2 separate regions of the Homo sapiens genome follow, and region 1 is linked to region 2. Evidence: fine-mapped expression QTL. A gene starts in region 2. The other region holds a variant in brackets. All regions are shown on one strand. Distances are between the middles of the regions.

Region 1 (16,404 bases), 27 kb after region 2:
CTAATTTTCACTTTTATATAGAATGGGTTTTTACTTTTCAAAACTTCATTGTGGCTGGACCCCTGCATTCCACTGAGGTCTGATGTGCTAAGTTCCTGATGCACTTCCTGCTCCTTGCCACCTTACTCTCCTCCAGTATTAACATTCTCCCATCCTCCCTCATCTTCCTACCCTCCCCCACCAGGTGAGAAAGATTTGGCTCCCCAGTTGGCTGACTGGCGTTCAGAGATAGGTTCCTGATTCCCTACCATGGAGAAGTTGCTTGCAAGAGAAACCCAGCATTATAAACGAACTTTCAAAAGGGTCAGTTAGACAAGTTGGCTGTGACATGAGGGTTAATTAGGGAACTTGAAATGTAATATTCTTTCTGGCACAGAGGATTCTGTTGTCCTCCAGGCTGCATGACTTAAGACAGCAATGGACAGTTTCCAGACCCCAGTTGCAAGCGGGCAGGGTCAGAGCTTCTAATTCTGCTAGGCTGAGTCAGTTTTTGGTGCCTAGATGGGTGTGGCCAAGAACGCAGATGGCAGGTAATCATTAGGGGATGTTGGGATGGGTCTGGGACAGGCTGAACTTGACAGCTGTGGTTCTGATTCACAAGGGCAGGCACCACTTCCCCCAAGGACCGTGCAAGCCTCACCATCTTATACCATGTTGTTTTGTTGTGTGTGTTTATTTTTCTTTAGTTATCCCTTAGTTGTTAAGAAACTAGACATATAGATTATTGACCTAACGCTTGTTTACCCTAGAAAGGTTCTGGTTGCTGCGCTTCACCTTGCCAAGGACCCTTAGGTAGGGCTGCCAGCCAAGTCAGCTGACTTTACCTGCTCCTCACACATTATGACTTAGGCTGTTGTGACTGCTGCAGGGCCTGCCACAGAAATGTGGTTAACTCTTGACCCCAGGCTTTGTTACAGGTATACCTCTTTCCTGCTGTTCTCAGATGCAGCCTTATGTGCAGCTTTTGGCTAGGACCCAACAGTCATCATAAAAGACTGACCCTATCACTGTCACTAACTGCCTCTACAACCTTCAGCATATCACAGCACCCAGATTCCATGTTCCTCATTTGGAAGAGCAGGTGGAGAGGGGTTGGCCACTAAAGATAACGAAACTAAAGCTGCCATAATTCTAAGAGATTTAACCATTACTTTCTATAGGCATTGAACTCAGTGGCTCTAAATCAAATTATTTATTATCCTTAATCATGATTATATAAGGCAAATTCTGCCCTTTAAACTCTCTTAATGAAATAGAAATATTTAAAGACAACTACCAGCTTTGTTCTCTTCCTCCTTCCCATCCTCCCTTCTCTTCCCCATTCTTCCTTTTCTTCCTTCCCTTCTTCCTTTCTTTATTTCTCAATTTGAAACAAATACGTTAGAAGTTCAAGTCACCTCTTTGCAGAGACAAATTATTCCAGCAAAAAACTAGAAATATCCGGTCTAGATTATCCCTATGTATAACTTATGTATTTAAAAGCCTTGGAATCCATCTATTATCTATCTGTCATCTGTCTATCTATCTATCTATCTATCTATCTATCTATCTATCTATCTATCTGTCTGTCTATCTACCTATCTATCTATCATCTATCTATCATCTTTAAACCCTTGGAATCCATCTATTAACTGTCATCTATCCACCCATTCATCATCTGTATTTCTAGAGAAATATCTATGCTTTTAGAGTTTAATAAGATAAAGTTTTGATTAGCTATTATTTTAAAATAACGTTAATCTAAAGCAACATTTTTAAAAAGTATAGTCTTAACATTACCTATATAGAGGAACCTGAGATGTTTGCTAAAAGTACAGGAATCTGACTGCAGGCTGAGAATCACTATTACCAACAAGACTGCACACCCCTGCCCCCAACATTCTTAAGCACATCATATTCTGAGAAACCTGCATGTGAAGACTTTGAAACCACAATATATCATGCAATGTAAAGGACTATTTTGAAGTGGTAGCTAAGTGGTTGTGAGGGGTAAATATACCTCTGGGAGCCACCTCAAATCCCTTGTGGATATTAAAAGTATAAGTGAAATAAAAAGGGAATGTTATAAATAAATGAATATGTAAAAATATCTTTAAGTAGCTATGTATCAATTTATTAATTCTGATGTTGAATGCTCTGTCCTACTCATTTTTCAAAGAGATTAAAACCTCTTTCCCATTAAAACTTGCCAGCCTGTTAGAGCACATAGAGCTATCTATCTGCTAGAATAATAATACTTTTTCGAATTTACCAGTATTTTTCAAAATGTATTCCAAAGAACTCTAGTTCATGAACTATCTGTACTACCACCAAACAAACAAGCAAAGAGTGAGACACATTTGCAAAAGCCCAGCCTATATAAATTATGAAAACACTACAAATTATGTACCCAGTATGTGAGCTCCATAGTGCACATTAGCTTATTACAGATTATGAGAAGCCTTACAATATGAAACTTTTAATGTTTTTAAACCAGAATTTCTAAAACTTATTTGACCAGGGAGTCTTTTAAAAAATCATGTTTATCAATTTCTCTCTTTTCCTCTTTCTCTCCCTCAAAGCTGGTTGTGTATTTGTTTTCTATTTAATTATGTAAAGCCTTGAATTATCTTTTAATTATTGTTTAACCCTTCATGCATAATTATATGCATTCCATATATGTATATGTCATGCAGGATTGTGTGTTTTTATTTACTGAGTGGATTATTTTGTTTTTGCCTTTTAGTAGTGCTGTTGCTAAATGTCCACATAGTCTTTACTGATTGGAGTGGACTTTCTTGGTACCAATTAACTAGGATAAAACAGGCCATGAGACAGAAAATGAAAGTATGGATGGTAGGCTCTAGGTAAGCAAGAGATAACTCCATTCACCTTGGGTTTTGATATCTCTTATGCTTTTACATGATCATTGTTATAAGGATGATAACATTAATACTACTTATTGTGCAGTTATGGTCTGTGATGTGGCAAGTACTTGTTATTTCTTTTAATTCTGAGAACAACCCAATAAGGCAGGCATTATTAATGCAATTTTCAGAGGATTATAGATACTTACAGCTGAAATCTACACAGAAATATAGCAAAGCTGGGTTTTGAACTCATTTCTAACTGACCTCAAAGCCCATGATCACAACCATTCTGTCCATTGCCTGCTGAATCTAGAAATTCTCAACTGTGCTTCTAAGGTGGTAAAGTTTATAGGTAGCCTCTTCCGTGTGATGTGAGGCTCGGAGCTAGACAGGGAAGTGACTCCTTAAACAGAATAAATACATATATGGTCTAAATCACACCATCACATGCCATGGTTTGCGTGTATGTGTGTGTGTGTTTGTGTGCGTGTGTGTGTGTTTATTTCTCTTTTGTTGTTTGTCCCTTAGTTATTAATAAACCTCGCTGAAATATGCAGGCTTTACCTCAGCTGTGCTATGAATAAGTAAAGAAAAGGTGAGGTGGCCATAAATGGACCATAGAGCTCAAGAGGGAACAGTTCTTCTCACTTTGAATGGCTGCTGCTGTGATCATCAGCCAAGATTGACAGGAATTAGAAGAATGTTGGAGAAAAGATTGGTGCCTGCAAAGGTTGGCTGCCTGAGCTTTGATCAATACTCCTGTCTAATGTCTAGGATTTAGTTTTAGAAATTTAGCATTAAAAATAATATATCTTCTGTAACAGATATTTAGTAAACTAATACTTTAAGGAAGGGACCATTTTTATTATTCATTTTAAGACCCCATAATGGTTAGCATGGTAACTTGTCCCAAGTAAGTGCTCCATAAATACTGGTTAATAAGAGAGACTGAGCCTGTCTTCAAGTTAAAGAAGGAGGGTGTTGGGTACAAAGACAAACTTCACTCAGCACATTGCATGTGCCAGAGTGCATTTTTAGGATTAATGAAGAAATATAACATCATTGTTTTTGATGTATACTCATTTGCTGAGGGTATATAGCCTAGTTAAGTTTTTAGTTGCTTATCAATTAAATGACATTTTGCCTTTTATGTGGTATCATTTAACAGCAGGCTACTAATCAGAATTTCATTGAGCTTTCAATTGCATGATGTAATGAGACCTAAAATGGATATAATTTCAGGAAGTTGTTTTACCAAATTATTTTTGACCTGAGAAGGATATCCACAAAACAGTTATTTGTAGCTTCTATTATATTGAGTGGTTTCTACTTAATTAAAATTGTGTCTCTAGCCTAGAAATTATTTTCTAAGAAATGTTTTCTTGCTAAATAAGATTGTTGTATATAGGAGAACTAACTCTATCTACTGACTGCTGCTGCTTACTGAGGAGACAAATATATTTCCATAAAATTCAAATAAAATGTTTTTAGATTCCAGTCAAATGCCATCATCTAATGAGATGACTGAGATGACATCTACTACCTTAAAGAAGTCAGGAATGAGGCCGGGCACGGTGGCTCACGCCTGTAATCCCAGCACTTTGGGAGGCTGAGGTGGGTGGATCACGAGGTCAGGAGATCGAGACCATCCTGGCTAACATGATGAAACCCCGTCTCTGCTAAAAATACAAAAAATTAGCCAGGCGTGGTGGCGGGCGCCTGTAGTCCCAGCTACTTGGGAGGCTGAGGCAGGAGAATGGCGTGAACCCAGAAGGCGGAGCTTGCAGTGAGGGGAGATCGCGCCACTGCACTCCAGCCTGGGTGACAGAGTGAGACTCTGTCTCAAAAAAAAAAAAAAAAGAAGTCAGGAATGAACTGCTTCAAGGCTAAGACATACTTGGCTCACATCTCTGATATCGGCTAACACTGGAATCAGCATGGCCCAGAGGATAAAAACAATAAACAACACAAACAGAACAAAATAGAACAAAACACATAACTGAAAATAAAGACAACTGAATTCCAGTCCCAGCTCAGCCACTGTTGTGCTTTGTGGGTCTTGTTCTTGTACATTTCAAATCAAGAGGATGGAACTTGTTCATCTCATTGTTGTGAAGATGAAAAGTTGAGTAACTTGTGGATCTGGGTGGGACTGTATTAGGGACTGGTACAGTAAAACAATTAAAATGAAATGATCCACAGGAGACACTTCCATCAATAGGTAAGTTACAGTGGGTGGGATAATGAGCCCTTCAACCCACCAGCGAATCAGTAGGGTAAAGCTAGCACTTCAACACATTGGTGGTGGTGGTAGTGAGGGGGTGAGTTTATACAGCATTAAGCTTTTCTTTTATTAGTGGAAAACTCTGAGTAGAGCTTGTGTGTGTGTGTGTGTGTGTGTGTGTGTGTCTAAGATTTTCCTATCTGTTGCCACGCTGTTTTGGAAACGGCCTACTATTTGCAGACTCACTGTCATTCACTAGTCCCGATTTTAATCACTGTTTGATCTTATATTACACATGAAATGGTAGAATAATAATTAAATTTTGTGTCACTGTCCCTGAAGACATATTTTCATATATTAATTGCTGATTAATCTTCTACTTTTTTTTGTTGTTGCAGTTGTTATTCCGTGACATCTTATCTACTTAAGCAGCTAACCCATGAGGCATCCAAAACAGAGAGAAAAAACAGAGTGAACATTTTGCCTTATGGAATTGTCAAAAGTTGCGGTCGAAACACAGGCAAGATTTGGAAGAATCTGTAATGAGCCAGGGCCAGTTTTCCTAGTTATAGAGCCTAGGCTGGAGGAGGTACATGGGCTGGGGAAGGAGAGGGAATTAGAGATTGGCTGTTCCTGGAAACTCTCTGCCTGTACTCCATGGCCTGAGTCCCAGGACCTGGAAGCGGCTGAAAATCTGAGATATAGAAGAGACTGGTGCTGCCTTTCTGGGGAGGGCTTGGGAAAACAGCAAGTTCCCTGAATTTTTCCATGGCACAGGAGCAGATGAAATGTCATGATTGGTGTCCAGGCTAGTGGACTGAGTTAACTCCCGAGAGTCCCTGTACTCTCCAGCATGGCACGAGGAGAAGCAAACCATTTTCCTATGCAGCCATAGGAAAACGGTACAAACACGACACTGAAATTCAGCTGACCGCAAGAGCTTGATGGTCAGTGTGAGCCAGATGGAGCAGGAACATGTATGGATGGAAAACCCAGATCCAAAGTTCATCCCCCTCTCCCGTGGATGCTCCAGCACATTGCAAGGTTTCCCAGAAACTTAGAGGCAACCTTGGCACAAGGACATGATTTGTTGGAAATTAAGTTTTGTCACCTGGGGGACTGCGAGCTTGATACGGAAATTAATTCAGTTATATAATTATAAAAATGATGCACTTTCTACACATCTGATTTTGTGAACCCAAATTAGTTTCCACAACGCAACTGTGTTAACATTTGCCAACCTCTGGGGCAACATTGGTTGTCTTTGTTGCTTTTTTCTAGAAGTTTTCAGCTCAAACTCATCTTTCCCTTTTTTATTTTCATTTCTAAATTCTGGTGAGTGGTGTTTTGATAAGTAGATATCAGCTATTTCCTGTCTTACTTGAAAAGTCTTCTCTGTATTAAATAACAAAGGTCACTTAGATAAATATCTTCTCATTACCAGAGGGTAGGGAACTGCTTCTCCTATACATAACTTCTATTATCTTTCAATCCAGAAAAAAAAACGTGGCAGGAGGACAAGTTTTTGAATGTTATGAATCGTGATTTCTGTGTCTAAAATCTGCTCTTTTGTTAACACTAAGGGCAACTTCCTTCAAAGTGGTTCATCTTGGTCTATTACTGTGTTTGTGTGTGTGTGTGTGTGTGTGTGTGTGTGTGTGTGTGTGTGTAGTAAAACCAAAGTTTCCTATTATTTTTGAAGGTATTTGGCCCTGCTGGAAGACAGCTATGTATAAGTTGAACTTGGCAGAGAGAAAGGGAAACCAGATCTTACTCCCAGGCCTCCTGTCACCAGCTGTGTGACTTTGCTGAAGTCATTTCTTTCCCCTAAGTCTCAGTTCCAATACCTATAAAGTGAGTGTTCTGCCTGTGTGTGTTTTAGGTCTTTATTAATGTTGAAATGTCCTGACTTTATGGGTTCTCATTCACTGTGATGTGGTAACCAAAACAAGCAGAGATTAATAACCAGGACTCAATAATGTAAAACACTAAAAATTATATTTTTGCAAATTTTTGTAAACGCGGGATCATATCTCTCTCAGTGACAGTATTGGTGTGATCCATTATTGTACATTTAGTGGATAAACAGAATGTAACTAAGAAGTGTTATCTTTGTTATCAGGGGAACGTGGAGTTGGATGTGTATGATGGGGATGGGCAGTTAATTCATAGGTTAAACACTCAACGAGGGAATATCTCTTTATCGCTATCTCCAAAGACTCCCCACTCTTCCTCAATTTTCTTAGTAACTCACTGCTCAGACTTAGTTTCCCCAGAAGCAGACTATGAGACCAGGATTTGATGCAAGCAGTTTTTTTGGAGTTGATCTCAGAAAGGCTAAGAGAGTAGAGAAGTAATACAGAGAAGTGAAGAAAGCTAATAGAAGGTCCCGGTGCTCTCTCCTGAAAGAGAGCGCTGGAAGACTGAGTAGAACATGCCCCAGAGTTGTCCCCCTCTGCTGGGGCAAGAGAACTAGGGTACTGATCAGCTAATTTCCGTGCTTCACTGGTTAAGGGCATTAACCTCCCCAAACTTCTGGCCTGTGCCCCAGATAGACCAGGCATGCTTCTGTGGCCAGAGAAAGCCCGAGGATGGAGAGTCACAGATGCTTGTGGTAGGTAGCAGGTGGTGTGTATGGAAATGGGAATGGGATGCCAAGGGGATTTGGGCAGGGCACCAAGCATCTGCCGCATTACCCTAATCCAGGCAATAACACTCACAGTATCCCAGGGATTCCCCTTCTAGCCTCGAATTCCTCTTATTCTCATTTATTTTGTATTTACTTTCTAGACCATAGTTTCTCAGATAGTAAAGGTTCTACTGACTTTCCTCATCTCTCTGCAACCTCTTTCCTGCCTAGCTTCTCTTCCATGGTCAAGCCAATACACACAGAATTTTGCCTTCCATTCTTCACTCAGGTGTTTCTTCCACTTGGAATCTGTTCCTCAGTCATTTTCACTAATCCATGTCCCTCCCAGTACACAGAATTTTTCACAGAAAACATAGTTAATCCTTTAAAAATATATTTAGATTGACTTGCATGCCCCTCTTAAGGTTTTTTCTTTCCAAATGCCTTTTTTAAAACCCCAATTTAAGAATTTCTTTAGCCAATACTACAACAATGCAGTCCTTGTTCTCCACTTCTTTCCTTTTATCTACTCAATGTTATTAATCTTTTTAGTGTAAACATCAGTAACTCAA[T/G]CGAGCCTTTTCTGATCCCCATGATTAGGATGAGTTTTTGTGTTGCCTACTCCAAAAGGTCTGTCCTTTTTAATGCTCACCACACTTGAGGTTTCTGTTCACACTTCAAAGGCTGTGGGGCCCGATACCATGATTTTGCTGCACTCCTAGACCTGGCCTACTGGTACATAGTAGGCATTGATAAAAATTTGCTGGAGCATTGCATAAATAAACTATGCCATTTGGGGCTGATTAACATTTTAACGAATAATTGATTTTACTTCTTCTAAGCATTTTTCTAGTGAATTTATAAATATATTAAAGGTGGAGGCTGTTTCTTTTGTGTCCCCTCTGGAGTGCTATATACAAAGTACTTCATACAGTAGGAGCTTCAAAATGTTAGTAAACTAAATACACACACACTCACACACACACATGCACACACGGAGGTAACTGCAAAGTCTCAGAGTATGTGCTTTGGTAAGAGGTTACTTGGACCATTGGAGCATGCTGTTCTCTCTCATGTGACACATAGCAACAATTCAAATAGAGTAAATCGGGCAGGATACAATGGCTTATACCTCGAATCCCAGTACTTTGGGAGGCTGAGGCAGAAGAATCGTTTGAGGCCAGGAGTTAGAGACCAGCCTGGACAACCTAGCAAGACACTATTTCTCCAAAAAGCAGAAACATTAGCTGGGTGTGGTGGTGCACCTGTAGTCCTAGCTACTTGGGAGACTGAGGTGGGAGGATCGCCTGAGTCCAGGAGTTCGAGGTTATAGTGAGCTATGATTGCCCCACTGCACTCCAGCCTGGGTGACAGAGTGAAACACTGTTTCTAAAATAAAATAAAATAAAATAAATAAAATAAAATAAAATAAAATAAAATAAAATAAAATAAAATAAAATAAAATAGTGAATTAATTGCTGGAGAGGTACTAAGTAATAAAATTGGGCTTCAAATGGAAAAGCAATAAAAAAAATAGGTCCTGTGATTTGGAAGAGTAATGAAGGTGCTGAACATAGACACTAATTGTAAATGTGTAGGAATGCTGGGAAGAATAAAAATTTGCGGGTATGTGTGCTAATTGGTGTTAATAACAAACATACAAAGAAAAACAAATTGGGTTAAAGAATAAAAAGAAGCACAAGATTTGCAGTCATTAATTTTGAAGAAAAATGTAGGTGAGAAAAAATGAAAAAAGCAAACTAAATATTTTGAAAACAAAGAAGTTCATCAGCTTAAGGATACACTGGACTTTGGGAACTTGGAGGCAAGAGTGTGAGGGGGGTGAGGTAAAAAAGACCACACATTGGGTACGGTGCTCAGGTGATGGGTGCACCAAAATCTCAGAAATCACCACTAAAGAACTTATCCGTGTAACCAAACACCAGCTGTTCTCCGAAAAGTATTGAAATTTTAAAAAAATTTAAAAAGAGATCAATATGTATTAAAATAGCAGTGACACTTTTGAGAAGACCTAGTGGTTAACAGAATAATATCAATAATCACCCAAAGAAAACTATTCCGAAATGTGTTGTGTTTCCCTGGTATAAATATAATTAGAGAATAAGCGGAATAGAAGAAAATTATCTTCACATCTATATATTTTACCTGTTTATGGATGCAATTTCCATAATATATACGCAGAATTTTTTCTAAACAGAAGCATGAAAATAAAAAAATATTTCAAAATAAAAGTGCTTCGGTGGAAGCATTAGATGGAGTATGATAGGAAATTTCATTTTCCCATTCTATTCAAACCAAATTGGGTAAAAGCCTGCTAGCTTTTCTTGAATGTTATCTCAAAAAAAGAAAAGATAAAAAAAGTTTGTGATAAAGTAACAGGCTACATAGGCCATCTTTGAACAACATATAAAGACTGTATATAAACACATACACAACAGATATATATGATTTAGATTTTAGTGTCTTTTGACATTTTCTACAGACATTTCAAATATTATATATGTATACACAAATATTAATAAGGATACAGAAATCTAGGTGTGCCTGATTTTACATTTCTTTGGGCAGCATGGATTTGCTATGAAGCCATTTGTCTCTAAACTATCTTTCTGAAAAAATATGCACATGCAGACACAAACGTGTGTGTGGTAGTACACTGGTAAACTCTGTGCTTGCCAAATGTTCTTGTATGCTGTTAGCCAGTCAGAGCTTCATGACCAAATGAACATGCTCATCCATTGAGCAAGAACCCACCATGCTGCAAATTCTCACCTTCAGAGAGTGCTGTGCTGTGCTGTCCCGAGCTGAGTGTGCTCCTCAGTGTGTGTGGCTCACTGCACTGGGGCCTCTCTTTTTGCCATGTGTTTTGTGGTCTGGTCTACAATTTTGAAAGACTGTGGCTTCCAGAAGTGGTGTAAATAATCAACTTGCAATAAGACACAGGTAGAGTATCATGGCTGATGGTAAAATGCATGTTTAATATTGACTTGAGGTATTTTCAGAGAAATGATCAAGTAGAATTGAACAAATGAGAGGCAATTAGAAGTGTTGTTGATCTTCAACACTGTGAAAGGCATCACTCATAATTGTAGCTGTAGGAGGTTGGATCAATATTTTGTGAATGATGGCTGGAAGAACCTGTAGCCTGAGACATTATAGCTTCATGAGATTTGAAGAAAGCACAAGAGCGATTGTAAATTTTAAATGCTAAGAAAGAATAGCTGTCCCTCAGTATCTATGAGCAATTGGTTCAAGGACCTTCTCTGGATACCAAAATCTGAGGATGCTCAGGTCCCTGATATAAAATGGAGTGGTACTTGCATATAGTCTATGCCCATCCTGTTGTATACTTTAAATCATCTATAGATTACCTGTAATACCTAATGAAATGTAAATGCTATGTAAACAATATAACTGTTATGCTGTATTGTTTAGGGAGTAAGGACAAGAAAAAAAGACTGTACATGTCCACTACAAACACAATTTTTTTTGATCCACAGTTGGTTCAATCCCTGAATGTGGAACCCACAGATGTAGAGGATCAACTGTATTTCCAGAGAAGACTTGCATGATCCCGACTCAGTTAGGACCTCAGGAAGGCAATGTCTCAGAATAATAGTATATATATATATGTGTGCATATATGTACGTATATATGTATGTACACACATATATATATGTATATATCTCACAGAGTCCCTAATGTTATTGACAAATATGCATTCGTAATTTTTTACCTGGTTCTTCGTCAGTGTGCTTAATTCTCAATATTTTTAAAAGGTTGAAAATACAGCTGAAAGTAAAATCAAATTCAGTAAAAATACCAAATGTCAGCCTCAGAGCTAAATACTGTCTAACAGCTCCAAGACATAAAAAGAAAGGAATATTCAAATTGATGAACATTATTAAAGACAAGGACATTTTCATTTATAAAAGAGAGAAAGTATTTAAAGTAAGTAAGTTCTTTATACTTCTAACTAAAATGCTTCTCATGTCTAACTCTTATAGCTAAGTAAAAAATAATGTAATGCTCCTTGTACACATCTTTTTACTTATAGTAGCCTTGAGAAAAATTACACATAGGTAGTTTAACTTGCTCAAACCCATCAGAAATTAAGGGAAATTGAAGAAAACATTATTAAGGATTTTATTCACATTTAAGTTGCTATTGTATGCAGCAAGAGATTAAAGGAACCATAAGATAAAGACTCTGACTCTATGAATATATGCCCCAGTAGAAGAGCATATAGAATTGGGTTTGAGATCATTGCTTTTTAAAGTATTTGTCAGCTCACGTTTGACACTCAACCTGTTACTCTCATCCAGTAATATGGTACTAATATTTATCTGTTTATAGCCTCCTCCACACTTCTAGTGAGTTACTGAGTTTAATTTTCTCTTCTCATTCAGAGCAAGCTAATGGGAGTAAAGGATGAATAGAAGTTCCCTCTGTCACTGAGGCAGGAGAATCGCTTGAACCCAGGAGGTGGAGGTTGCAGTGAGCTGAAATCACGCCACTGCACTCCAGCCTGGCGACAGAGCGAGACTCCATCTCAAAAAGGAAAAAATAAATTCTCTCTGTCTATCCCACCACCTCAGGTCTGGTCATATGACCCTATACTCAGCTAACATGATACTCCATGGATTCTTGACCATTTAAAAATCTTGTCCTTCAGGGCTTTTACTGATTTTGGAGTATACAATAAATATCCTTCAATTATTTTGGGTGCTTTATAGCCAGGTTTGTTTTTTTTCTAGGCAGCCACAATCTTGACTAATATGAAAGTTGGTTCCAGGAGCAGATTATATACCAGATCTCAGGGAAAAGGAGGAAGTCTGGGATTGTACCTGGCATAACTGGGGTTAAAAGCAGTGAAAATGCAGTTGTGTCAGTGATCGAAGGATGACAGACTGTGGTAAGCAATGACAAAACGGTTAACTTTCCATTACTTGGAATCCAGTGCAAATTGAAGATCAGGCTTTGGGTATCAATTTGCTGATGTTGAATAACAGCTGAAAAAAACTAACTGGGTGTGTGAGGGGCTGCTGTTAGACAAACTAAGTGGCTTGGATAAAAAAAGAATGACAAGCTCAAATATTAAATTCTTGGGTCACAAACTTAAGCTTAGGGAACTTTACCTGATGATGCTAGCAGAATATTTGGACTCTTATAGCTGTAGAGATGAGGTATCCAAAAAATAAATAAAAAGGGTAGTCTTGAGTTGCCAAGTTAACACATTACTTATCCCCTCTTCAGCTTCTTTGGTGAGAGTTAAAATATTAAATGGGACAGAGTGACATTCTGAATATTAAAATGGAGATATATGGGAGGATTTGAAGGACTTGAAATAGCCACAGAATCCAAATTCTTTAAGCTTCCTTAGCCAGTTGGTGCATTCAAAATAGCTCAGGTAAAAACCCTTTTCTTTGTTGGAAGAGGCAGTCCTTCCCACTCTTAAGTCAGTTCTCTTCAGATCCTAACCCTCTTTCCCCCATTTTCATTTCAAACTGGTAACTGAATTTGGATTTCAGCATACTAATTTATGTTGTCAAACTTTGTGTAATAGTTTTATACAACAAAATAAATACACAAAATAAATATACTTAACAATTTGTATAATAAAATACCTAGGGGAGAATATGTCTTATTAAATTCCAAACATGCTCAACCAAAAAGTGAATAAATGTAGTCTTAGGTTAGTCTATTTTTTTTTCATATAGTGCAATTATCTGAATTCATAGAGAGGGCAAGCTACTTTTAATACAGGAAGCTGTATAGATTATTGATCATGCTAAAGAAAATTAAGATGCCATAAATTATTTACAATAGTACCTAGAAAGAAATAAAATGACCGAATTTATAACATGAATCTCATCTACTTCCTAACTATGTTGCCTAAGTAGACATAGATGACCATTTTTACTAAGGCCTTGAGAAATACTTATGAGGGAACTACTAGTATCTACAAAAATGTGATTGTGGCTTCTCTTGTCAGTTGGGGATATTGATGGGAGGGACTAATATTGAAATAGTCTGCCTGATTACAGTGGAGATTGGAAAGATCCTATGATTGAGAAGGGCAGGTGCAGAAGTCAGGCACTTAACCTCCAGAGGCCATTTATTCGTGCTTTCCCTAATAGAGACACATAGATATTTAACACTGATTTATTGATCATTGAGTCTATAGATCTGAGATATATGGGCAATCACAAAGTTCCTAATAAATTTGCATAAAATCCCCATGTCTCAGGATGAAGCTCACCAAAGGAAAAACAGAGTCATTACTCTATTTCTAGACCTGTGGTCGTTTTCTGGTGTAAATATATTCTGAAGAAAAGAATATAAGTAGACCTTTCAGTTGTTTTAAGATAATGGCTCCCAAATTACACATGTCTGTTATAGAAGAATGGCACTGTGGTTCAATGGTCAGAGTAGAAATGTATGATGTTCAGGTGATAGAGTCTTGACCCAAGCCCATCTCACTGTAGGCATAGTGGGACCTACAGACACATCCTCTTCTTTTTCCCTTCATTTCCTGTGTGTTCTTGGAAAAGATACTCTAGACAACTGGCTAAATACTCACATTTACTTCTTAACTCAGGAATAAGAGTTATTATGAAAGGAAAGAACAAGGATGGAAGTCCTGGATCTCACCTTCCTTACTAAAAGAAAAACCAAGAGCAGTAGGATATTCCCATAGAATCTGAGAGATTAGTGCTACCATCAATGACTGAAATGGTAGGTTGTGGTCATTTCTATCGCAGCTCCATTCAACTCTCCAATTAGTTTGATGGGGAAGACAGATGGGTCTTGGAGAATGAGTGTGGATTATCGTAAGCTTAATTAGGCGGTGCCTCCAAGTGCAGCTGCTGTTCCAGATGTTGTCTCCTCACTAACTCATATCAACAGAGCTCCTGGCAATCAGTCCAGGCTGCAGTGCAATCAACTCTACCTGGCAGCCCATTTGATCCAGCGGATCCAATGAAGCTTGAAGAGTTTGTAGCAGATTGGGATGCTTTATGGAGCTCCAGTAGTAAATTCTCAGTCAAGACCTCTAATATCATTTAAAAAATCAAAGTTATGACCTCTCCAGTAAGTAACTAGTCCTATTTTGAGAAACAACTCTTGAAATGCTACTGGACCTTGGTAGGACTAAATACCTGGCATTATGATCTGAATTTCCCATTATGAATGAGTCACAAGCTCATTCACCAAAAAATAAAGTGAGGAATCCACAGCAGTACTCCCTCAAGTGAAATGCACACATACCCATGCATCCACGTGCACATATACACACACACATATGCACAGGAATGGTTCCAAGCCAATCTTAAATGCACATGTTAAATTGCACAAGGAGGATTCTCATCTTCCTGGTATCATCCTGCTACGCTGCTGTTCTCTCTCAACCCCAGTGGCCTCATGGAAGGATTCCTGTGACTAATTAGTAGCCTGAGATGCCAAATAAATCAATAAATGGATAGATACGTAGATAGATAGATAGCTCTTGGTTTACAGATGCTTCTTCCTGATTTCCTGGGGCCAGCACTGGTGGACTTATGGTAAATGATTGTACTTCTTAATTCAATGCTGGTCCTAAAGAGAAGTAATCCTGTTGTCTAATTTGCCTGGAAGAAGTCATAGATTGAGTTAAGTAATAACAAAAACCAGTGGACCAGTGGGTAATGATTAATAATTTGAGCAGGTAGTCAGAAGCTTAGAAGTAACAAGAATATTTTGGTAGAGGGTAGTGGATATCTTTTTCCATCTGAATGCTCTCAGAGTGGAAAAATATTAGTGTACCATTTGAATGCTTATCAAGAGTCTCTTAAGGTTCAGGATAGATGATAACTCACTCTCTAGATGTCAGTCAGCCTCCCCGCCCATTCTCCTCATACTTGCATAATGATCTCATGAATTATGTAGCAATGGTGATAGTGAAAACTACTGTGTTGGATTGAATGATGGTCCCCAAAAGATATGCCCACATCCTAATCCCCAGAATCTGTGAATATGACCTTATTTGAGAAAGAGTCTTTACAGGTCTAATAAAGTTAAGGAATTTGAGACAAGATCACCTGGATTTCCTGAGTAGCTTCTAAATCCATCAAAATGTATCCTTATAAGAGACAGAACAATAGCCAAGATGTGGAAGCAAACTAAGTGTCCATCAACTGATGAATAGTGGTATATATACAGGATGGAATATTATTCAGCCACAAAAAAGAAAACCCTGTCGTTCATGGCAACATGGATGAGCCTGGAGCTCATTATGTGAAGTGCAAAAAGCTAGGTACAGAAAGACAAATATTGCATGTTCTCACTCATACGTGGGAGCTTTAAAAGTTGATCTCATGGAGGTAGAGAGTAGAATGATGGCTACCACAGGCTGGAAAGTGTAGGGGGAAGGAGGGATGAAGAGAGGTTGGTTAATGGGTACAAAATTATGGTTATAGAGAAGAAATAGGCTCTAGTGTTAGCACAGTCAGGTGACTATGGTTAGCAATAATTTATTGTATAGTTAAAAATATCTAGAAGAGAAGATTTGGGATGTGCTCAATATGAAGAAATGATAAATGTTTTAGGTGATGGATACCCCAATTGCCCTGATTTGATTGCTACATAGTATATGCATGTATCAAAATATCACATGTACGTCCAAATGTGTACAATTATTATGA
Region 2 (12,902 bases):
CTCTTTCCATAGTGTATCAAAATGAGTCTGCACATACTTTTGCAATTAAGCCAGAAGATTGCTCTATGATAATTATTAACGCTATGTTTCTCCAGCTAAACTGGGAAAGGTACCCTAACTTTCATTCCTCAACATTCTGCCCTGATACCATACGTTACATATAGCAGACTCCCTCTCCTTCTAGACTAGTAGGGATTGAGAAACCATAGTAGTCATTTGTTTGTTTCCCAGTGTACCCACAGTCCCAGTGAAAGAGTCTCCTAACAGATTTCTTTGCCTCCAGTCTTCCCCACTCCAAGGTTTTCTGCATACTGCTCAGACTCTTTGTCTTAATTAAGCACTGGTTTCGTCATGTTTCTTCACTGTTTTGTTAACAAATCCTTTAAGCCACTTCCCATTAATATTATTTTTCTTTGACTCTTTTATTTCCAATACACCCTACATGGGTAGCATCACTTGCCTTTCCTCAAACATGGCTCTCTTCATCGCCTGTGACAGTGCTTTTGTTCCTTCTACCCAGAATATTCTTCCTATCTGTCTATTCTTGTCACAATCCTCTTAATCTCAAGGATGGCTCAAATATCAGCAATCTGGACTCCTGCAGAGTGTTGTACCCCTGTCACAGGATTAAACCACATTTTGCCTTCAATGAGTGTGTTTGTGGTTAATATCACATAAACTCTTGGAGAAAAGGCCTGTCTTGTTCATTTTTGTATCACCCCAAATTGAATCATGCAGCCTCTTACAGAGTGGTTGTGCAATAATAGTAGATAAATTTTCTACGTCTCTTCATATTTTTTTCCTCTTTAATATTGTAAAGTCACATATAATAACTTATTTTCAGTGGTGTATTCATTTTGATTCCTTGGCCAAAGTTTTTTCTATTTTTAGTCAAAATGGCTCCTTGCTTAAAGGTTTAACTCTTTTACCTCCATACATAGGCTTAGCAAACAATACATAAGAATCCCCGTGGTTATAGAATCAGCTCTGCACAAACCTAGGCTTCTCATTCTAAAGTGGAAAATATTAGGAGAAAGTGGGCAATTCATGGAAACATAGAGTTTATTGTGATAACAAAAACCTAGTTTTATATTTAAGAAAATAATTCCTTTAGAAGTTCCCGATTTCTCTGGCAAAAAGAACAAATAAAAACATAGTCCAACCAAATGAGGTTTTGGGTTGATATATCAGGATAACAGATAATATAATTTTTTAAGAAATGTTTTCAATTTTCTAGTTTTTCTCTTTGGTAGAAGAATGTTTAGTCAACTTTCGTGGACCTTAGACGAGCCAAAGATCAGTATGTTTAAGTTAATCAGTAACTTGAAATGCCTTTTTCTTGTGTTTGGGAGAAAGAAAAGGAGACAGATTGCTGTGGAAATATAAGATGTTATTTCTGCGAAAATACTTGTATCTTTACCAATTTTAAATGTCGGTTTTCTTCTCCCAAAGTTTATTTTACCTGTCTACTTGGATGAGCTTCAGAACTATCTATGTCTGAGGAATATTATCTTCCTCTTCTACATTTTGCTGTAGAGCAAACTTTCTGCACCGTATGTTAAAAAATCTGAAACTATATTATATAGTAGAAACAATTCAAGACTTAACTTGTAAAAAAGTCATGAATTAAAGTGGAATGAAAATAATATATTTTGAAAAAGCAAACCAATGAGAGCTGGACATGTTAGGTTTTAAAATAATAGGTTCTATATCTTTAATCATTGAAATAATATTTATACACTATTTTCCTATAAAATATTACATATTCATAAGATTTTAGAATAGAATGGAATTTTGAGGTCGCCTAGACCAGTTGCATCACTTTGTGAGTAAGGAAATATTAAGCTTAGAAATGTTAAGTCCCCTTTTCAAGGTCCCACAGAAATCAGTAGCAGAGCTTAAATGAGAATTTAACTTGTCTGATTCCAAATCAGTGGCTCTTTTTACCCATACTGTGATATCTATATTGTCTGAATTCAAAACTTGGATGTATATTATGACAATCTGATGTGACTTAAATGGAAACGATGGGACAGAATACTTGAAATTGAAACTGGACCCCCAAGTCAGGACACTGGATAAAAAGAAGTTTATTTGTGTCACAGTTTATTTATGTCCCCTAATGTATTTTTCTTTAAAAAAAAAGTAAAGATTAAATGCTAGTGTTTTATCAATTTGCATGGTCTTCATTAAATTGAAAAAAAAAACACACCAGAAAAATGAAGGAAATCAAACACTGCTGCTCCAAGCTTAGGGAATAATGTTAATACCATTGGAATCTACATCACCAAATACTAAGAACCCTCAGTACATGAAGCCAATCAAAGTTAAATACAGTGGATCTTTGTGTTCTATTAATTTATATGCTGAAACTTGTAATGGTGCTGACTACCTTAAACAGTAAGACAAACAAGGAAACATGCCCTTTTAGAGTTGTGAGTTGGGATAGTACTGGATATTGAGCAAATATAATTATGTTGCCATTTCTCTGGCTTTTTGATTCTTGGAGCAAATCATCAAAGTTATGTATATGTCACTTTTGTGTGAAATTATAAGGGGGATAGTCGTTAGGAATGAAAGCTTTGAACCAAGATAAAAATACATAATAAGCAATGTGTCCCTAAATATTTTGAAGAATACATTCCTAAAGAGTTAAATCCTGGCCAAAAACAAGTCCTTTGACTCCTGTATTTATTATTCGTGGTTTTGAACATGCCAGGTTCACGAGTTCTACCTGCACTTGGCAACAATTCTGTACTTTCCTCAGCCCCATGGTGTGCTCAGCTGCTTGTAAAAAGTAAGGAAGCTCTGGTGACGGTGATGCATGGTAACAACAGTTTTTATTCCTGTCAGACTTGAAAGGGTGAGAATTTGGAAAAGGTAAGAGTTTATGAGATAGTCTTAATTAAAGAAAACTATTCACTTATACCAACACTTGGAAAGTTATCTAAAATACTAACTACTTCTTTTAGGTTGGAAAAATTAGAAGGTAACTGTTCCTTTCCATTTTTTCATAGGTACTGTGGGGCAGCCCAGGAGCCACTAACAACCAAGGCCTGCACCGGAATAAGCTACAAGGATTGGTTTGGAAGGCCAAAAACCTCAGCTGACCCTAAGTCAGTTCTGCTTCTTATACAGACTATTTCAGTCCCGTCTCCCCAGTGTTACCAATGTTGTGTTTCCACCTAATCCTAACTCCTTATCTTCTAAAATGTGACATGTTTCCTTGGCTCTTCAAAGCAAAATGGAAAGAGGGAGAGATTCAAATCCTAATGCTGTCACTTAACTGTGTGAAGATGGGTAGATGAGGTACATTACTTAGTTTCTCTGAGCTGTACTTTTCTCATTTTTAGAATGAGATGATAACACATGATATGATTTGGCTGTGTCCCCACCCAAATCTCATCTTAAATTGTAGTTCCCATAATCCCCATGTGTGTTGGGAGGGACCTGGTCGGAGGTAATTGAATCATGGGGGCAGTTCCCCTGATGCTATTCTTGTGATAGTAAGTTCTCACGAGATCATATGGTTTTATAAGGAGCTTCCCCCTTCACTTGACTTTCATTCTTCTCCTTCCTGCTGCCACGTGAAGAAGGACATGATTGTAAGTTTCCTGAGGCCTCCCCAGCCCTGCAGAACTGTGAGTCAGTTAAACCTCTTTCCTTTACAAACTACCCAGTCTTGGGCAGTTCTTTATAGCAGCGTGAGAATGGACTAATACACGTATCTTTAAGTTTTCTGTGGTGAAGATTAAGCATGGCAGACACAGAGTATGTACCCAATAAATAATAGGTATAATTGTGCTCATCCACACTCTCATCAATTACCTGGCAAAAATTCTATTCAAGGGCTAGGACTCTGCTACTCCACTCCAATCCTCTTCAGTTCCACTATGTTTACCTCAGTTCCCCAACCAAATGGGTAACAGCTGGTTTTGCATGAAAGTGAGCAACTATGGAGGCAGAGGATTGTCTCCTCACGTACTCGGGATGAATTCTACCCCGAGGCACCACACCCTTGTTGGGCCAACTGCACAGAATTCTGTGCATGCACGACTATCAAGTGTTTATCTATTGCCCCAGAAGCAAGCTTCTCTAAACCTGGTGCTTGTTTCTCTCCTATGCTTCCATCTCCTGTTGACCTCCCTTCCAATTCTTTCCAATGTGCCTCATGGAATTTTCATTCTGTTATGAGTAACCCTCTGTTGATCTCCTAGTTTTCATTAAACGTTGTCTGTGCTTCAAGAACACTGAATATCTTTTTGCTGTGTTAAATCCAAAGCTTAGTCATTGGTCCTCATCTTAGTTGAATCCTCAGTACTTTCGCTACTACCACCCTTGTACAAGCTGCTACCTTTTTTTTTTTTTTGCCTGAAATGATACAGTAGTGTATAAACCAAGTATCTCTGCTTGCATCGTCATCTGCCTGTCATGTATGCTCAATGTAGTAACCACAGTGATCCTTATAAAAGTAAAGTCAGGTAAATGTCACTCCTTGGCTACTTCAGGTCAGGGACCATGTCATTTTTTTTTTTCCCTCTGTATCTCCAGGGCTTATCGCTGAAACTTAGCAGGCACTCAGTAAATATTTTGCTAAGCAGTTAAAACTAAGAGAAGAAAGAGGAGGGAGAAATATGGTAATCACTTACCACATCCTCTTTTAACCTCTTGAATATCTTACCAATGTCTTCTTTTGTTCTTACTTTCACATCATTTGATTTGATAAAACAAAACTATTATCTAGAGAGGTAAGGCAGACTTGTGAACTGGACCCGTAGAAGTTAAGTGATGTCCCTGTTTGCAGTGTCAATGAGATTGAGGGCTTGGGCTTGAACCCAACCTTCTCCCTCCAAATAGCCTGCTCTTTCTGTTATGTCATGTTTCATATACAAGTTTGGGAGCCTCCAGCCCTGACTATCCCAACATATACAACATAATGTATATGTTGTCTTTGGAAATATCTTCTGTGAAGGCCAAGCATTTAATATTACAGGAAACCTTGAAGTGGATATGGAAGCTTGGCAGCCAGCTTGGATCTTCCTAAGAGCCTCTTTCCTTCATACCATCTTCAGAGTACGTATCATTCAATAGAGACTCTCTTGCACAGGAATTATTATTATATGCTTGCAAATAGTCTCAACCAAAATCTTTAACCTGGAAATGAAGATGGGCTACTGTCTAGGAAGCCTCTGATTTTGTTATTGGTTTTTATTATCATGTTAGGTTTGTATATTAAGGAGAAAAATTGGCAGAGAGCATCTAACCTATTAAAATTAGATATTCAAAGAAATTTAGTTTTGGGGGGTCTGAATTGATAATATAACATATGGAAGTTAAAATTCTAGAAGCTATGTTTACTATATGATTTCATGGTGTAACAAGATCTGGGAGTAACATAAACTAATCTACCTTCCCTTGTAAACAATCATCTTCCTTCCAAGTCTTGCTGGCAGAGGAAGAGGTTGTGGGACAGTGTGGGAAGAAGGAGGGAGTCAGAGTTAATTTCATTATGTGCTTCCTAAAGAATGGGTTATTCAACAAAAACACTAGTAACAACAGCAACAATGAAACTCCACCTCTCTGAAGTGTATAGAAGATTAATATGATATTTAAGTACATTTTAAATAGATTTTCTATTTCCAAATTGATAACTGTGGTCATGTAAACTTTCATGATCCTTTGCGGCTGACTCTCTTGTATGTCCATTTGGCAGTCTCAGTTTCTGCTACATTAATTTGACCTTGATAATTTATTCATTCATATATGTTTGTATTATTTCTTGAACCAGATTACTATAAGAAACTGTCTTGTTCTTGTCATATCTTTTTCCATGCTCTCACACCTCTAAATAATTATCTAAACCTAAAAAAGGATAAGTACTTTTTAGAAATTTACTTTACATTCAAAGTAGAGTGTCTTATCTAGGTTTGACAGTTTTTACACTCTGAAAATTGAAACTATATCAACAAAAGTAATTTTATACACTGTCCCAAGCTTTTAAGAAAGTGATAAATATACACTGTATATGACATTGAAGTACATTTTGAATAGCTTTTCTATTTCTATCTTGATAATTATGTGGTCCCACGTAGGTCAACAACAACAAAAAAGTGTTGGGCCATCCCATGTAGGTTGACAACAACAAAAAAGTGATAGGTATACAGTGATCTTTATACCTATCAAATTTTGTTGATCTTATTTATTTATTATTATTATTATTTTCTGAGACAGAGTCTTGCTCTGTCGCCCAGGCTGGAGTGCAGTGGCGTGATCTCAGCTCACTGCAACCTCCGCCTCCTGGGTTCAAGTGATTCTCTTGCCTCAGCCTCCCGAGTAGCTGGGACTACAGGCGCGTTCCACCATGCCTGGCTAATTTTTTGTATTTTGTAGAGACAGGATTTCACCATGTTAGCCAGGATGGTCTTGATCTCCTGAACTTGTGATCTGCCTACCTTGGCCTCCCAAAGTGTTGGGATTACAAGCGTGAGCCACCGCGCCTGGCCTGATCTTATTTTATAAAGATACACTGTATACCTATAACTTTTTTGTTGTTGTCGGCCTACATGGGATGACACCAGAACTTTTTACTTTTTTGCGACTTCTTCAGGGCCCTTCTGATCATACTGATTCCATGGTCCAGCAGCCCTGACCTGCTCCATCCACTATGTGCCCTGAAATGCATACCTGTGGTGGGAAACTCCCAACAGGAGCTTATGTCACATATACGTGGCCAGAAAAACACGAGAGTGCCTCGGGACAAGTATTTCACGAGCAATGGAAAAAAGTCATTTTGTTACCAGTTCTTCCAGAAGCATATTCACCCATGCAGATTCATAATCTGTAACACTTAAATACAATTTCTTTGTTTCTAATTACACATTGTAGTTTGGAGAAGCATGATAATATTCAATTAAAAGTAACTCATGAATTGTTTGTAGAAATCCCCGAGATGACTAAATATTCTATATGAAGACAGATGAATGAAATAATTTTAATCTCAAATCTAGAATATACTTTTTAGAATTAAAGAGCAGAGGGTCTTTTATAATAAGGCAACTTGTCACCTTATGGACATCTTCAGATCATCATATGATAAGAATGTTTAATAATATTAAAAAGTGGCATTCCAATAAATAACATGGTAATATTGCGGGATACAAGCTTAATATACAAAAATCATTTGCTTTCTATATACCAGAAATGAACAATTGGAATTTGAAATAAAAAACACAATGCCATTTACATTAGCAACAACAACAAAATGACATACTTTGATATAAATCTACCAAAATATCTACAAGTTCTATATGAAGAAAACCACAACACTGATGAAAGTATCAGTATTGGCTCATTAATTGTAACCAATATACCACAGTATTGCAAGATGTTGATAATAGGAGGATAACAGGTAGGGAGGGGATAGATGGGAACTCTCAGTACTTCCTGTTCAATTTTTTGGTAAACATAAAACAGCTTAAAAAATAAAGTCTATTAAAAATAAGTGCCATCCATGGAATACATATAGAAAAATGCTGCTACATTAAATATTACCTATAGATAAAAATGCATCCCAAGACACAGTACAGCATGTTCAGATGATTCTCTGTGAAGCAGCATAACACAGTGGGTAGAATTCAAATTTTAGAATCAGAAAGACCTGGATTCAAATCTGAACTCTAACTTGCAAAAACTGTGTGAATCTAAGCAAGTGGCTTAATTTTTTTCTGAACCATATTTTCATCATCTGTAAAGCTTGGATAAGAAGGACTACCTTACTTACATGAGATTATGTTTGCAAATCACATGAAACACTGTATGACACACTGTACCTGTCCAATAACTGATAATATCCAATCTTTAATGTATAAAGCTACACTTAAAAGCTGTCCATATTTTTAAAACCAACAGAATGAAGTCAGAAATAAGAAAGGTATTGGAGCAAAGGAAAAGTCATTATGCAAGGAAGGACAAGTTATTCATTCGTTTGGCTATACATACATTTGGAGACCATTCAGTAGATTCACTTACCTACATTTTGTAGGTTTTGCCACTCTTACCTCTTATTCGGAAAAAAAAAAAGCTTCGGAGATCTCTTTCCAAATCTCTTTTGCCTGCTGAAGACCATTATATGTATCGATACCTCATATTTTGGAATTTATGGAAAGGTCTTTTTCTTTTATTTAAAATTTATAAAAAGGTATACATTTACTGTATGTAATGATAGAATCTTAGAGATAGTTCTGAAGTCCTCTTCTGAGTACTCACTCTCTATCTACCTATCTATCTATCTAACTATCTATCCTCTATGTGTATATATTTTTATCTTAAAATGTGACATAACACAGTCTGGATGCAAGAAACCAAAATGGACTCAGTGGTCACTTGCTTTCTGGTTTTTGATGAGACAGTTTCTGGGAGTGTTTGTCAACTCGTGAAGGCAGATGTATCCAGAGGTTTGAGGGTCATAGATGATGTTTGTAACCTCGTTGATGTAAGCAAAAATTGGGCTTTGACTGCCCTTGTTTGGATACTTGATATAAATTACCAAGGCATTAAATTCACGTTAACAAGTACATGCAGGTGCTATTTGTAGTAGGTGCCAGTAAGGAAACCAGAAAACATGGTTTATGTTAAATGAGATAACATGTGTCAAGAGTTTATCTAAGTTATTCTGTATAGCAAGTATTCAATCAGTGCTATAATTTATTTTCTGCACTTCCCTATGTTTATTTTAAAAGTTTACTTTTTATCACACAGCTTTATGCCATGAAGTGATTGAATATCTCAATTTCCTCATTATAATAGACAGGGGAGAAATCAAAGAAGAAGATAGTTACAAAATATCTTTGACTAAAATATGTACATCTGCTGTTGTGGATGGCCTCCCCCTCACTCTAACTATAAAAATAAAATACTACAGAAAAATGAGATAAGATCTTTATATGTTAATAGCAATTTATTTCTATTTACACTTGCTTTTTATAATTATCAAAAGCTATACTTTCATGAGGAGTATTTCTCTCCTTTGAAGTATGTAAGACATATCCAGAAAGTAGATTTAAAAAGCCATGCAAACTTATTTTCATTTCCTTAAATATTATTACCCTGGCATTTTGTTTTAAATTAAAATTCATAATAACATATATGACAGCATCTTAATGGAGGATCAGCAGTGGAATTTGGATATACACACATTTACTTTCATTCTCAGGTACCGAATTTTTATTTTTTAATTTTTTTATTTTTTTAGTTTATTTTTTTTATTTTTATTTTTTTTTATTATACTTTAAGTTTTAGGGTACATGTGCACAATGTGCAGGTTAGTTACATATGTATACATGTGCCATGCTGGTGCGCTGCACCCACTAACTCGTCATCTAGCATTAGGTATATCTCCCAATGCTGTCCCTCCCCGCTCCCCCAACCCACAACAGTCCCCAGAGTGTGACGTTCCCCTTCCTGTGTCCATGTGTTCTCATTGTTCAATTCCCACCTATGAGTGAGAATATGCGGTGTTTGGTTTTTTGTTCTTGCGATAGTTTACTGAGAATGATGATTTCCAATTTCATCCATGTCCCTACAAAGGACATGAACTCATCATTTTTTATGGCTGCATAGTATTCCATGGTGTATATGTGCCACATTTTCTTAATCCAGTCTATCATTGTTGGACATTTGGGTTGGTTCCAAGTCTTTGCTATTGTGAATAATGCCGCAATAAACATACGTGTGCATGTGTCTTTATAGCAGCATGATTTATAGTCGTTTGGGTATATACCCAGTAATGGGATGGCTGGGTCAAATGGTATTTCTAGTTCTAGATCCCTGAGGAATCGCCACACTGACTTCCACAATGGTTGAACTAGTTTACAGTCCCACCAACAGTGTAAAAGTGTTCCTATTTCTCCACATCCTCTCCAGCACCTGTTGTTTCCTGACTTTTTAATGATTGCCATTCTAACTGGTGTGAGATGGTATCTCATTGTGGTTTTGATTTGCATGTCTCTGATGGCCAGTGATGGTGAGCATTTTTTCATGTGTTTTTTGGCTGCATAAATGTCTTCTTTTGAGAAGTGTCTATTCATGTCCTTCGCCCACTTTTTGATGGGGTTGTTTTTTTCTTGTAAATTTGTTTGAGTTCATTGTAGATTCTGGATATTAGCCCTTTGTCAGATGAGTAGGTTGTGAAAATTTTCTCCCATTTTGTAGGTTGCCTGTTCACTCTGATGGTAGTTTCTTTTGCTGTGCAGAAGCTCTTTAGTTTAATTAGATCCCATTTGTCAATTTTGTCTTTTGTTGCCATTGCTTTTGGTGTTTTAGACATGAAGTCCTTGCCCATGCCTATGTCCTGAATGGTAATGCCTAGGTTTTCTTCTAGGATTTTTATGGTTTTAGGTCTAACGTTTAAGTCTTTAATCCATCTTGAATTGATTTTTGTATAAGGTGTAAGGAAGGGATCCAGTTTCAGCTTTCTACATATGGCTAGCCAGTTTTCCCAGCACCATTTATTAAATAGGGAATCCTTTCCCCATTGCTTGTTTTTCTGAGGTTTGTCAAAGATCAGATAGTTGTAGATATGCGGCGTTATTTCTGAGGGCTCTGTTCTGTTCCATTGATCTATATCTCTGTTTTGGTACAAGTACCATGCTGTTTTGGTTACCGTAGCCTTGTAGTATAGTTTGAAGTCAGGTAGTGTGATGCCTCCAGCTTTGTTCTTTTGGCTCAGGATTGATTTGGCGACGCGGGCTCTTTTTTGGTTCCATATGAACTTTAAAGTAGTTTTTGCCAATTCTGCGAAGAAAGTCATTGGTAGCTTGACGGGGATGGCATTGAATCTGTAAATTACCTTGGGCAGTATGGCCATTTTCATGATATTGATTCTTCCTACCCATGAGCATGGAATGTTCTTCCATTTGTTTGTATCCTCGTTTATTTCCTTGAGCAGTGGTTTGTAGTTCTCCTTGAAGAGGTACTTCACATCCCTTGTAAGTTGGATTCCTAGGTATTTTATTCTCTTTGAAGCAATTGTGAATGGGAGTTCACTCATGATTTGGCTCTCTGTTTGTCTGTTGGTGTATAAGAATGCTTGTGATTTTTGTACATTCATTTTGTATGCTGAGACTTTGCTGAAGTTGCTTATCAGCTTAAGGAGATTTTGGGCTGAGACAATGGGGTTTTCTAGATATACAATCATGTGGTCTGCAAAGAGGGACAATTTGACTTCCTCTTTTCCTAATTGAATACCCTTTATTTCCTTCTCCTGCCTGATTGCCCTGGCCAGAACTTCCAACACTATGTTGAATAGGAGTGGTGAGAGAGGGCATCCCTGCCTTGTGCCAGTTTTCAAAGGGAATGCTTCCAGTCTTTGCCCATTCAGTATGATATTGGCTGTGGGTTTGTCATAGATAGCTCTTATTATTTTGAAATATGTCCCATCAATACCTAATTTATTGAGAGTTTTTAGCATGAAGGGTTGTTGAATTTTGTCAAAAGCTTTTTCTGCATCTATTGAGATAATCATGTGGTTTTTGTCTTTGGCTCTGTTTATATGCTGGATTACATTTATTGATTTGTGTATATTGAACCAGCCTTGCATCCCAGGGATGAAGCCCACTTGATCATGGTGGATAAGCTTTTTGATGTGCTGCTGGATTCGTTTTGCCAGTATTTTATTGAGGATTTTTGCATCAATGTTCATCAAGGATATTGGTCTAAAATTCTCTTTTTTGGTTGTGTCTCTGCCTGGCTTTGGTATCAGCATGATGCTGGCCTCATCAAATGAGTTAGGGAGGATTCCCTCTTTTTCTATTGATTGGAATAGTTTCAGAAGGAATGGTACCAGTTCCTCCTTGTACCTCTGGTAGAATTCGGCTGTGAATCCATCTGGTCCTGGACTCTTTTTGGTTGGTAAGCTATCGATTATTGCCACAATTTCAGATCCTGTTATTGGTCTATTCAGAGATTCAACTTCTTCCTGGTTTAGTCTTGGGAGAGTGTATGTGTCCAGGAATTTATCCATTTCTTCTAGATTTTCTAGTTTATTTGCATAGAGGTGTTTGTAGTATTCTCTGATGGTAGTTTGTATTTCTGTGGGATCAGTGGTGATATCCCCTTTATCATTTTTTATTGCGTCTACTTGATTCTTCTCTCTTTTTTTCTTTATTAGTCTTGCTAGCGGTCTGTCAATTTTGTTGATCCTTTCAAAAAACCAGCTCCTGGATTCATTAATTTTTTGAAGGGTTTTTTGTGTCTCTATTTCCTTCAGTTCTGCTCTGATTTTAGTTATTTCTTGCCTTCTGCTAGCTTTTGAATGTGTTTGCTCTTGCTTTTCTAGTTCTTTTACTTGTGATGTTAGGGTGTCAATTTTGGATCTTTCCTGCTTTCTCTTGTGGGCATTTAGTGCTATAAATTTCCCTCTACACACTGCTTTGAATGCGTCCCAGAGATTCTGGTATGTTGTGTCTTTGTTCTCGTTGGTTTCAAAGAACATCTTTATTTCTGCCTTCATTTCGTTATGTACCCAGTAGTCATTCAGGAGCAGGTTGTTCATTTTCCATGTAGTTGAGCCGTTTTGAGTGAGATTCTTAATCCTGAGTCCTAGTTTGATTGCACTGTGGTCTGAGAGATAGTTTGTTATAATTTCTGTTCTTTTACATTTGCTGAGGAGAGCTTTACTTCCCAGTATGTGGTCAATTTTGGAATAGGTGTGGTGTGGTGCTGAAAAAAATGTATATTCTGTTGATTTGGGGTGGAGAGTTCTGTAGATGTCTATTAGGTCTGCTTGGTGCAGAGCTGAGTTCAATTCCTGGGTATCCTTGTTGACTTTCTGTCTCGTTGATCTGTCTAATGTTGACAGTGGGGTGTTAAAGTCTCCCATTATTAATGTGTGGGAGTCTAAGTCT

Evidence for each region.
Region 1: its variant is fine-mapped to the expression of LINC00402 in whole blood (TOPMed, PIP above 0.99).

What each region holds. Positions count from the first base shown.
Region 1 is chr13:74,251,462-74,267,865 of GRCh38, forward strand. It overlaps LINC00402 (long intergenic non-protein coding RNA 402), which reads left to right. Exons shown (of 2, transcript NR_144451.1): 2 at 5,472-8,515. It also overlaps a transcript of KLF12 not described here. Among named protein-coding and RNA genes, the nearest start is that of LINC00402, 28 kb to the left of the region's middle. The variant T/G (reference allele first, on the strand shown) is at 8,275.
Region 2 is chr13:74,226,680-74,239,581 of GRCh38, forward strand. It overlaps LINC00402 (long intergenic non-protein coding RNA 402), which reads left to right and starts at 4,765. Exons shown (of 2, transcript NR_144451.1): 1 at 4,765-5,073. It also overlaps a transcript of KLF12 not described here. RefSeq lists an enhancer at 1,245-1,389 and a cis regulatory region at 1,311-1,324.